Regions from separate parts of the Homo sapiens genome. Here region 1 is linked to region 2. Evidence: fine-mapped expression QTL. A gene starts in region 2. The other region holds a variant in brackets. All regions are shown on one strand. Distances are from middle to middle.

Evidence for each region. PIP is the estimated chance that this variant, and not a neighbour inherited with it, causes the effect.
Region 1: its variant is fine-mapped to the expression of EBPL in whole blood (INTERVAL, PIP 0.90).

Annotation. Positions count from the first base shown.
Region 1 is chr13:49,716,481-49,721,861 of GRCh38, reverse strand. It overlaps KPNA3 (karyopherin subunit alpha 3), which reads left to right. Exons shown (of 17, transcript NM_002267.4): 10 at 2,043-2,087. Among named protein-coding and RNA genes, the nearest start is that of EBPL, 28 kb to the right of the region's middle. The variant GAGAT/T (reference allele first, on the strand shown) is at 2,481.
Region 2 is chr13:49,688,277-49,693,657 of GRCh38, reverse strand. EBPL (EBP like) reads left to right here and starts at 2,172. Exons shown (of 4, transcript NM_032565.5): 1 at 2,172-2,404. The coding sequence starts at 2,234. RefSeq lists silencers at 2,047-2,246, 2,277-2,416 and an enhancer at 1,880-2,877.

The DNA of each region.
Region 1 (5,381 bases), 28 kb before region 2:
ATTTCATTGCAGGTGTGAGTTTTTTGTTTGTTTGTTTGTTTGATAACGGAGTCTTGCTCTGTCGCCCAGGCTGGAGTGCAGTGGCGCGATCTTGGCTCACGGCAAGCTCCACTTCCTGGGTTCACGCCATTCTCCTGCCTCAGCCTCCTGAGTAGCTGGGACTACAGGCACCCGCCACCACGCCTGGCTAATTTTTTTGTATTTTTAGTACAGACGGGGTTTCACCATGTTAGCCAGGATGGTCTCGACCTCCTGACCTCGTGATCTGCCCGCCTCGGCCTCCCAAAGTGCTGGGATGACAGGCCTGAGCCACCACGCCCAGCCACAGGTGTAAGATTTTAAAAGTAACGTACCATATTTAATTACTCCTATGAAATAAAAGTTGAGTGTCTTACTGTACCTGAAAGAATGTCAGTTCATCCTAATGCCTATTTTTTTGATTATCTGCATAAAAAGAAAATATAAAAATTCAGAGAGAAAAATACAAAAGGAAAACAATCTCAAAGTTTTATTACTGTATTGCATTGTTGGTTTAAAGCTATAAAAGGGGGTTGCTACAGGCAAAACTAGTATACTTACATGCAAATGTTCTTGAATGAGTTTGCTTTAAGTCCAATTGATTTTTTTTCTTCTTCTTCTTCTTTTGAGACAGTCTTGTTCTATTGCCCAGGCTGGAGTGCAGTGGCATGATCTCAGCTCACTGCAGCCTCTGCCTCCTGGGTTCAAGCGAGTCTCGTGCCTCAGCCTCCTGAGTAGCTGGGATTACAGGCCAGCGCCACCACACCCGGCTAGTTTTTGTATTTTTAGTAGAGATGGGGTTTCACTGTGTAGGCCAGGCTGGTCTCAAACTCCTGACCTGAAGTGATCTGCTCACCTCAGTATCCCAAAGTGCTGGGATTACAGGTGTGAGCCACTGCCCCCACGGCCTAACTCCAATTTATTACTGACAAAATTGGAGTTCTTAAAAGTGTGACATATTTTTTGTTAAATCTACTAATTAAAACAAAGTAAAAACTTTTTTATTTACATTTGATATGTAAATAGATCCTTGTGCTTTGCATTTTAAAAAAAAATCCTACATAACCTTTATTCACTGTTGACTGTGTTATCTCTTTTTTTTTTTTTTTTTTTTGAGACAGTCTCGCTCTGTTTCCCAGGCTGGAGTGCAGTGGCACAATCTTTGCCCACTGCAGCCTCCACATCCGGGGTTCAAGCGATTCTCATGTCTCAGGCATGTGCCACCATGCCAGGCTAATTTTTGTATTTTTAGTAGAAATGGGTTTTCACCATGTTGGCCAGCTGGTCTTGAACTCCTGGCATCAAGCAGTCCACCCACCTCACCCTCCCAAAGTGGTGGGATTACAAGCATGAGCCACCACACTTGGCCAACTGTGTATCTTTATAATGGACATCTTTCTCTAGTACCTGCTACTTTTTGTTGCTATGCAAAGGTATTTTGTGTGATTTCCTACAACCCCCTGCTCCCTTTCTCCCATATTTTAAAAAGAGATCTCTGGGGCCTGAATTTAACAAGCAAAGCTTTGTACTTTGTACTGGTTCGAATTTTCTTGACTAAAGGTGAAGTTGAAAACTTTAATTTGACTTAAGTAGCTTATTAAGTAAAATCGTATTTTTACGTTAAGCAGGTAAGTGAGACAATTACGGCAGTTTTAAGTGTAGCTTTTCTTAAATAGCTGTAACTGTATATTTGCATCTCCATTTTTTCCACTTGACATTTTATGCCATAAAGAAGGTTATTAAAAACAAATGTTTTTATTTTAAGGTACATTAACTTCTGCCAGATTTATTTGGATATTTTAACTTGTTAATTGAACATATTTCAGTTTAACATTTGAGATATGTTTTTGGTTTTTTTAGATTGAATTTATCAGGTTTTCATTTTCCTAAAAGATATTCAGACAAATTTAACATTGTCTTTCTCGCCCTACAAACCATATTTACCGCTTTTTATGTCAAAGTTGTTCATTTTTACAGACATATTAATTAACTAATGTTAAGTATTGTTTATTTTCTTTCCTCAGATTTTGCCAGCTTTATGTGTCCTCATATACCATACAGATATAAACGTAAGTTAAGAAGCAGCTTAAATGTGGGATTTTGCTCTTGATGGGACAGAAAGGGTTTTTATGTAAGTGTCAGCATACATTTTATCAACTTGTCAAGTTTCTACAACGTATTTACAGTTTTCAGAAATAGGATTAAGCTTAAATTAGGTTTATAGCTTAAATCTGTAAGCAGTAACAGCCAGACAGCAAAAATGCTCACTTTTGAGAAATTACTGCATATGTAGTTTATTTCTGTCATTATTAAGTAGTGTTTTTAAACCTTAATATTTGTAAAGCGGTAAAACCTCATGAAACACCTTACTTTTTAAAAAAAATCTCACTGGTTCTTACAACAGATAGGCTAGATATTATTCCCCCCATTTTATAGAATAAGAAGAAACGGACTCTCAGAGA[GAGAT/T]TAAATGACTTATCTAAAGTGGAAGAGCTAGTAAGGGTCAGAGTCAATATTCAAATTAAAGTCTTCTCATAACAGGTCTTGGGTACTTGTCACAAAACCATGCTGCCTTTTTATGCTACAGTCTTTTTAGATATAGTATAGAAGAATATATAGTTTTAAATGCAAGGCATTTTTAGGTGATTTTTTTTCATTATATTCAGATTTAGTGAAGCATTTACTGTCAACGTTCTGGCAAGTTTGATACTATCTAGGCAATCTGAAAATTCTCCTAAATGCAGTAAGGTAAATTGTTACTTTTCCATGGAGTAAAACAGTGGATAAATTTCGGTGACTAGTGTTGATCCAGTTTCTTTTATTCTAACTAACATCTCTTTCTGATTTGTTGTATATTTGTGTTTTTGTAATCTTTATCTACATACACATAACATGTACATACATATGTGTATATGTGTGGCAGAATTGTGAATTGTGTGTAATTTATCATTGGGACAAAGAAATACATCTTTGCTTACCTTTCTCACAAGGCAATATAATTTGTATATAAAAATTGTATCACATTACTCTAGCTCATTTGCAGATTTTAAGCTCTCAGGATGGAATCTTTTAAAGGTAGCTAAAGTCACTTCGTGTTTGACACAGCCTAAAATGTCATTAAAATGAAGTAAAACATGTTTATATGCCGTCTTATTTCCAAAATGGATATAAAGTGACTTAACAAAAGACATATAAGATAATATCTGTAAAGGAAAAAGTAAAATTTATACAGAAGTTTAGTTGTTGCTGTTGAAAGGTAAGTTTAGTTGTAAGCTTTCTGACAGCAAAGATTAAAAGGGGAATAAGCAAAATATCTGCTGTTTGCCTCAGGACTTTCCCCCAGAACATTATAGAATTAATTATAGGCAAATAAAAGCTTTCACCATCTGTTGGTTGTGTTTATGTGAAAGCTGGGGTATTAAAGTGGCAGTGTACTGTAGTTACAGGTATATTAGTCAAGTTTAGCAAACACTCACAAATTATTCCACTTAAAGCCAGAATTGTGCCATGAATTGTACACTCAGTGATAAGACATAAAGAGACCATGCCTTCTAAGACCTTAACATTAAAGATGTAAAAAGAGTTAAAAGGAAAGAACTTATGTCAAGAAATTGCTGTGCTGGATCTCTCTGTAGACTCCTTTTATCTTACCAGTATCCTTGTAAGATAAGTTTTATTCTTCTATTTTACAAATACAGAGATTGAAACTCGGTAAAGTTAAATAATCTTTCTAAGGTCATGCAATGAATGAGAGCCATACCTGAGAACTGAAGCCAGGTCCAAGGCCTGTGCTTTTTCATACCATGATCACATATTCAGTATAATCCATAGGCTCACAGTGAAAAAAAAAATCATACCATAAGCACATAAACATAAAACATGGTATGAAAGCCAACAAGAAAAAAGGTAAGATAGAGCAGTGACCAAAGTGCTTTATTATGGAAGCACAGATAATTTTGCTAGCGAAGCAGAAAGCTTCGTTGACAAAGTAACATTTGAGACGAGCATTATAAGGAGACAGAAGTGGGGACAGAGTCAAAGATTATAGTGTTCATAGTTACCATTTATTGAGTTTAAAATCTGCCAGGCACTGTTTTAAGCACTTTTGCTATGTTAACCCATTTAATTCTTACAAAATTCTTGTGAGATTGGTACTCTCATTATCTCCATCATCTACAAACGTTGTAAAAGAAGCAGAGGTACTTAAGTAATTTGTCTCATGTCATATAACTAGGATGAATAGGATTTTCACAGGTTGAGAGAAAGTCATTTCAAGAACACGGGGGAAGATATTAAGAACTCAAGAATACATGGAGGTTTAAGAGAATACATGTAGATAATAACCTAATACGTTCGCTAAGGAGTTAATTTGCAGAGTCTTTGATTCTTTTTTTTTTTTTTTTCTTTTTTTTCCGAGATGGAGTCTTGCTCTGTCACCCAGGCTGGAGTGCAGTGGCGCGATCTAGGCTCACTGCAACCTCCGCCTCCCGAGTTGAAGGAATTCTCCTGCCTCAGCCTCTCCAGTAGCTGGGATTACAGTGCATGCCACCACTCCCTGCTAATTTTTTATATGAGTTTTTGATTCTATATTAAAGAGTTTTAAGTTTATCTTGTAATGACTGCAGAGTCATTGTAGATTTTTTAAATCGAGAAATGATATTTGTTTTATACAGATAAAATTATCTGTAACAGACAAATAACACAAATATGGAAGGTTTGAAGTAGGGAAAGTTTGACTGTAGGTAGATGTATTTTGCTATCATAATAGGTTTAGGGAAGTTGATGAAGGCATGGACTATTACTAAATTGCAATAATAGGAATCGTTAAGGGAGAAAAAACTTTGAGTGTTAGGAAATAAAGTGAGTAGAACTTGGAACTTGTTGTTCCTCAGTGGCGGTATTTTCCAAAAGCAAAAGACAATACAGATTTTGGATTCGTCAGTATTTAAGGGATTGATGAAAACCTGGGCATTGAATGAGATCACCTGGAGGAGGCTGTATTTCGGAAGGAGGGCTAAAAATGTAACTTAGGAATTCCTGGCGTTTCAGGAATGGCAGCAAGGGAAGAAGAACCAACAAAGGAGTTTTTAAAAGTAGTATGATGATGGCTGGGCACGGTGGCTCATATTTGTAATCCTAGCACTTTGGAAGGCTGAGGACAGTGGATCACTTGAGGTCAGGAGTTGAGACCAGCCTGGCCAACATAGCAAAACCCCGTCTCTACTAAAAATACAAAAATTAGCTGGGCATCATGATGCGTGCCTGTAATCCCAGCTACTTGGGAGGCTGGGGCAGGAGAATCGCTTGAGTCGGGGAGGTGGAGGTTGCAATGAACCGAGATCACGCCACTGCACTCCCACGTG
Region 2 (5,381 bases):
TTTTGCTCTGAAGGGGAGGTGGGCCGAGTGGTCCCTAAAGGATGATAAGTTAGTTACAGGACAGGATCCAGAGCATAGGTGGCTAGATTGACCATACTCAGTCGCCAGTTATTTAACTGAGCAGCTAATATATGCCAAACTCTGTAATAGGTGCCAGGGATACAGCAATAAAAAAGCTAGCCACAACCCCTGGCCTTGAAGACTTACATTATAGTGGCAGGAGATTAGCAATAAGTGTGTAAACAAGGATCATTCTATCTGGTGTTAACTGCTATAAAAAATGGTATAGGAAGTGACTAAGGGAAAAATTTCTTGTGTTCAGTGCCAGCATTTTTTTTAATAACTGTAAAATACACATAAAATTTGCCATCTTAACCATTTTTAAGTGTGCAGCTCAGTAAAGTATGTTCACGTTGTTGTGCAACCAATCTCCAGAACATCATCTTGCAAATCAAACTATCCGAATAAATAACACTCCACTTTTCCCCGCGCCCCCCCCCCACTCCCGCCCCGCCCCACCCCTGGTAACCATCATTCTATTTTGTTTCTGCAAATTGATTATTTTAGATATTTCCTGTAAGTGGAATCATAAGTATGTTTTTGTGACTGGCTTATTTCACCGACCTCATAGGGTTGTTGTGATGTTAAATAATGTAGGTTTGTTCCCGGACCAAACTGGGGGTTGGGCAGCCCAATAATGAGGTGCAGATGAACTGGGGAAGAAGAGTTTTTATTTCTGCAACCGGTTACAGGGAGAAGGTCTGGAAATTATTGCCAGACCAACTCATAATTACAAAGTTTTTCCAGAGCGTATATACCTTCTAAGCTATATGTCTACGTGTAAGAGTGCATTCATCTAAAGACGTAAGTGATTAACAACTTCTAATCCTGAAGACCTTCCTCTGGAGCCTCAGTAAATTTACTTAATCTAAATAGGTCTGGGTGCTGGGATGATTACCCTTATTTTGTCTCTTGCTAAATCATGGAGGCTTGTGGAATTCCTCCAGACTCCCAATAAACTTGTTTTTGGAGGCCTGGGGAGTTTCTTCAGACCCCCAATAAAACTTGTTTAATCCTAAACGGGTCCTGTTAAAAATTCCTTAGTTATCTTGTCATGCTTCAAGGCCCAAGAAAGGCCTAGGCAAAACTCTTGGTGGGCTTTTGTTACATTCCAGACTTTGGTATATGGGCACTGACTCTTTCAGCTTTTAATTTTTTTTTTGTTTTTTGAGACGGAGTCTCGCTCTGTTGCCCAGGCTGGAGTGCAGTGGCGCGATCTCGGCTCACTGCAAGCTCCGCCTCCCGGGTTCACGCCATTCTCCTGCCTCAGCCTCCGGAGTAGCTGGGACTACAGGCGCCCGTCACCACGCCCGGCTAATTTTTTGTATTTTTAGTAGAGACGTGGTTTCGCCGTGTTAGCCAGGATGGTCTCGATTTCCTGACCTCGTGATCCGCCCGCCTTGGCAAAAAGTGCTGGGATTACAGGCGTGAGCCACCGCGCCCGGCCTCAGCTTTTAATATTTAATTTAACCACTCAGTGCTGAAGCAGTTGTGATGGAGGCCTGCGATAGTGAAACCTGGCCTGCCACAGGTTAAACGCATCTATCGCCAAGCCAATAGGACTTACCGCTCCTCTCACCCACCCTTCTACTTTTCTGGATTTTTAAGAAATGGAAAGATTGTCAGAGTAGGCCATAAAGGCTTTAAGCCGGCTGGTGGCTGAAAACTCCCTTGGCCCCCAGCCTCCCTGGTAAGGCTTGCTGCAGCCTAATTAAAACCTTTTGCCCCTAAAATTCTGCCCCGGTCTACTGGCAAAATTTCCACTACCTAGGCTTCACTTTGTGGCTTAAAGTTTGAGCCTTGTTAAAAGCGAAACAACATCAAAAGGTGTGGCCCTATTACCAATCCTTTGGGCTCGGTTTGGGAACAGGTTTGGTCGAGGCGGTTGCGCAAGTTGGTGAGCACGTTCCTTCTACGGAACCTCCATGGGCGGCACCTGGCAAAACCACCGGACTCAGCAGGCTGGCCAGGGTGCGAGGCGGGCACGGAATCCTCGCTCTGGCCCCGACCCGGCCGGGGAGCCCCGTCCCTCCCCGGACCGCCTTGGCCAATCAGCTCCGCTCCTCCTTGGCCATCCGGCTCCGCCCCTTCCCGGCCAGCCCCGCCCCGTCGTTTCTCTCCCTGCTTTCCTCTGCCGCATGGTCCTGGGCCGTTGGCGTCGGAAGCCTGAAGCATGGGCGCTGAGTGGGAGCTGGGGGCCGAGGCTGGCGGTTCGCTGCTGCTGTGCGCCGCGCTGCTGGCGGCGGGCTGCGCCCTGGGCCTGCGCCTGGGCCGCGGGCAGGGGGCGGCGGACCGCGGGGCGCTCATCTGGCTCTGCTACGACGCGCTGGTGCACTTCGCGCTGGTAAGTGCCATCGCCTAGACCCTGCACTCCCCATCCCAGAGAGTGGGAGCGGGGGCGGCAAGGCGGGGTGAGGGGGTCCTGCGGCTTTTTGCAGCGAGCTGGCCGCCCCTCCCCCTGCTGCAGGAAGTCTGTTAGCTGAGAGGCGCCTGGAGGCCGCGGCGGCCGGAGTTCTGATTCCCAGGTCTGTGAACAGAGCGCAGCTTACCTTGTGCTGCCGATTCCTCCACCAAACTTTAAAAAAATTCTGTACGTGCTATGTTAGTTTAGAAGATACCTCAGCTTCCTCGGCTTTGTAACCTGCACGTAACTGTTGAACTGGACATAATTGAGAGTAGAATTGAGGTCATTTTTAAATGCCCCAGAGGGGGCAAGGAGAGATGCTTGCTCCGGAGGCAGCAAGGCTATTGTCGCAAAACCCGAAGCCTTTGCCAAGACAAACGAAACACCCGTGTCTAATGTGTGCCAGGCGCATTACTGAGTTTAAAATTTCAGATCTTTACAGCATCCATAAATTAGTTATTATTGTTCCCCATTTTACAGAGGTGAAGGTAGGCGCTGCAAAATTAGGTGACTTTCCAGTGCCACACAGCTGGCATGATTCTGAGGCAGTCTAGTCTGGCTCCCAAGTTTGCACTCTGTGTATCAGTCGAGGTCTTAGGAAATATGTGTCCTTAGAGATTCAACCCATTTTATAAAATAGCCAGGAAGGTTGTGTTTAAGGCATTTATATTGAAATGCCCCGCCCCCCACCACACACGCGCACGCACACACACACACACACTTTTAAGTTTTTTTTAAACTATGCCCAAGTATCAGTTTGTTTTTTTTTTTTTTTGTAAAGTTGACCTTGTTTAACTCTAGACACACCTGTGGCTAATGTGAAGCCAAAGTCAGTAGTATTGAGAAAGCAAGCCGAGTTTTGGGTAATCATCGAGTTCTGTAAATGTTTACGGGTTGGCTTTGTGCCCATGACTGATGTTGCTGGAATTCTTTTTATTCTGATAATCAACATGTAGAGATAAGGGACAGTGAATGTTTCTCTCAACTCCTTTATTTATAGAATTCTTTTTTTTTTTTTTTGTCTTTTTTTTTGTTGTTGTTCTTGAGACAGAGTCTAACACTGTTGCCCAGGCTGGAGTGTAGTGGCACTATCTCGGCTCACTGCAACCTCCGCCCCTTGGGTTAAAGCTATTCTCCTGCCTCAGCCTCCCGAGTAGCTGGGATTACGGGCGCCCGTCACCACGCCCAGCTAATTTTTGTGTTTTTAGTAGAGATGAGGTTTCACTATGTTGGCCAGACTGGTCTCAAACCCCTAACATCAGATGATCTGCCCACCTTGGCCTCCCAAAGTGCTGGGATGACAGGCGTGAGCCACCGCCACCGCCACCAGCCGAGAATTGATTTTTAAGCTATCACTTGAACACAAGGTTTCCCACAGAACAAGGGAGATAAAGCAGATTGCTAGGCCCGGTTAGAAAAAATGTATAACAAAATGTATAACATAACAAAAATGTTGCTAGGCCCAGTGAGAGAAAACTGTGTAACATATTGGCTGGGTATAACTGTATATAGCATATCAGAATGTATATATATAAAAATGTATAACATATCGGACACAGTGGCTCATGCCTGTAATCCCAGCATTTTGGGAGGCTGAGGCGGGTGGATCACGAGGTCAGGAGTTCAAGACCAGCCTGGCCAACATGGTGAAACCCCGTCTGTACTAAATATACAAAAATTAGCCAGGTGTGGTGACGGTGCCCATAATCTCAGCTACCCGGGTGGCTGAGGCAGGAGAATTGCTTGAACCTGGAAGGTGGAGGTTGTAGTGAGCCATGATCAAGCCACTGCACTCCAGCCTGGGCAACAGAGCAAGACTCTATCTTGGGAAAAAAAAGAAAAATGTTTAACATACCTTAGACAAACAAAAAGCTGTAAAAATACTTAAACTATATGCGTGTGTTCACCACTTGGTTTAAGACTGTTTACTTTTCAAGCTCAGGTTGTTACAGGTAACACGACACACACCTCCTTTTGTGCCATTACCTACCCCAGCTGCAAAGTAGTCCACTGTGTGAATACACCATACCTTAGTTCTCCAAGTCTAAGACCCACATTTTTTCACATATTAGAAGAATCAACTACATCATGTAACTACTGTAGGCCATTTGATTGATATTTTAATGTCTCTAAATTGGGATGTATCTTATATTTGATGAATACGATCACTTAACCAGCCCATATTAGTGGACACATTTTTCTGTCATTACAAACAATGCATCTACCAACGTCTTTGTACATGTGTCTCAGAGATCAGTGGGGAGAGCACTTGAATTAAGCAGTTGAGGCTGCAAGAAAATACATGCCCATGTTGTCTTTGCTTGGGAGTTTATTGCAAGAATACCCAGAAGTGTGGGACAAGCTAAGACTAAGATGTAGAGCTTAGGGGAGAACCAAAATTAAAACTCACTTGTTCACTAGAAGATGAGTTGCCTCTCCTTAACCCGACACTTCTTTTTTTTTTTTTTTTTTTTTGAGACGGAGTCTCGCTCTATTACCCAGACTGGAGTGCAGTGGCGCAATCTCGGCTCGCTGCAAGCTCCGCCTCTCGGGTTCACGCCATTCTCCTGCCTCAGCCTCCTGAGTAGCTGGGACTACAGGCACCCGCCACCACGCCCGGCTAATTTTTTGTATTTTTTGTAGAGACGGGGTTTCACCATATTAGCCAGGATGGTCTCGATCTCCTGACCTCGTGATCTACCTGCCTCGGCCTTCCAAAGTGCTGGGATTACAGGCGTGAGCCACTGCGCCTGGCCACCCCCTGACACTTCTTAAAGAGAGGAGCTCTGTAGGTTTTTTGGCTGCCATCAAATTGAAAGCTATCCTGTTGGACAGTTTCAAGCCAAGCATTCCCAGGGGCAGTTCATTTCCCAGATGTCCAACCAGAGTGCAGTCACCTTGGGCCCCAGCACTGGTC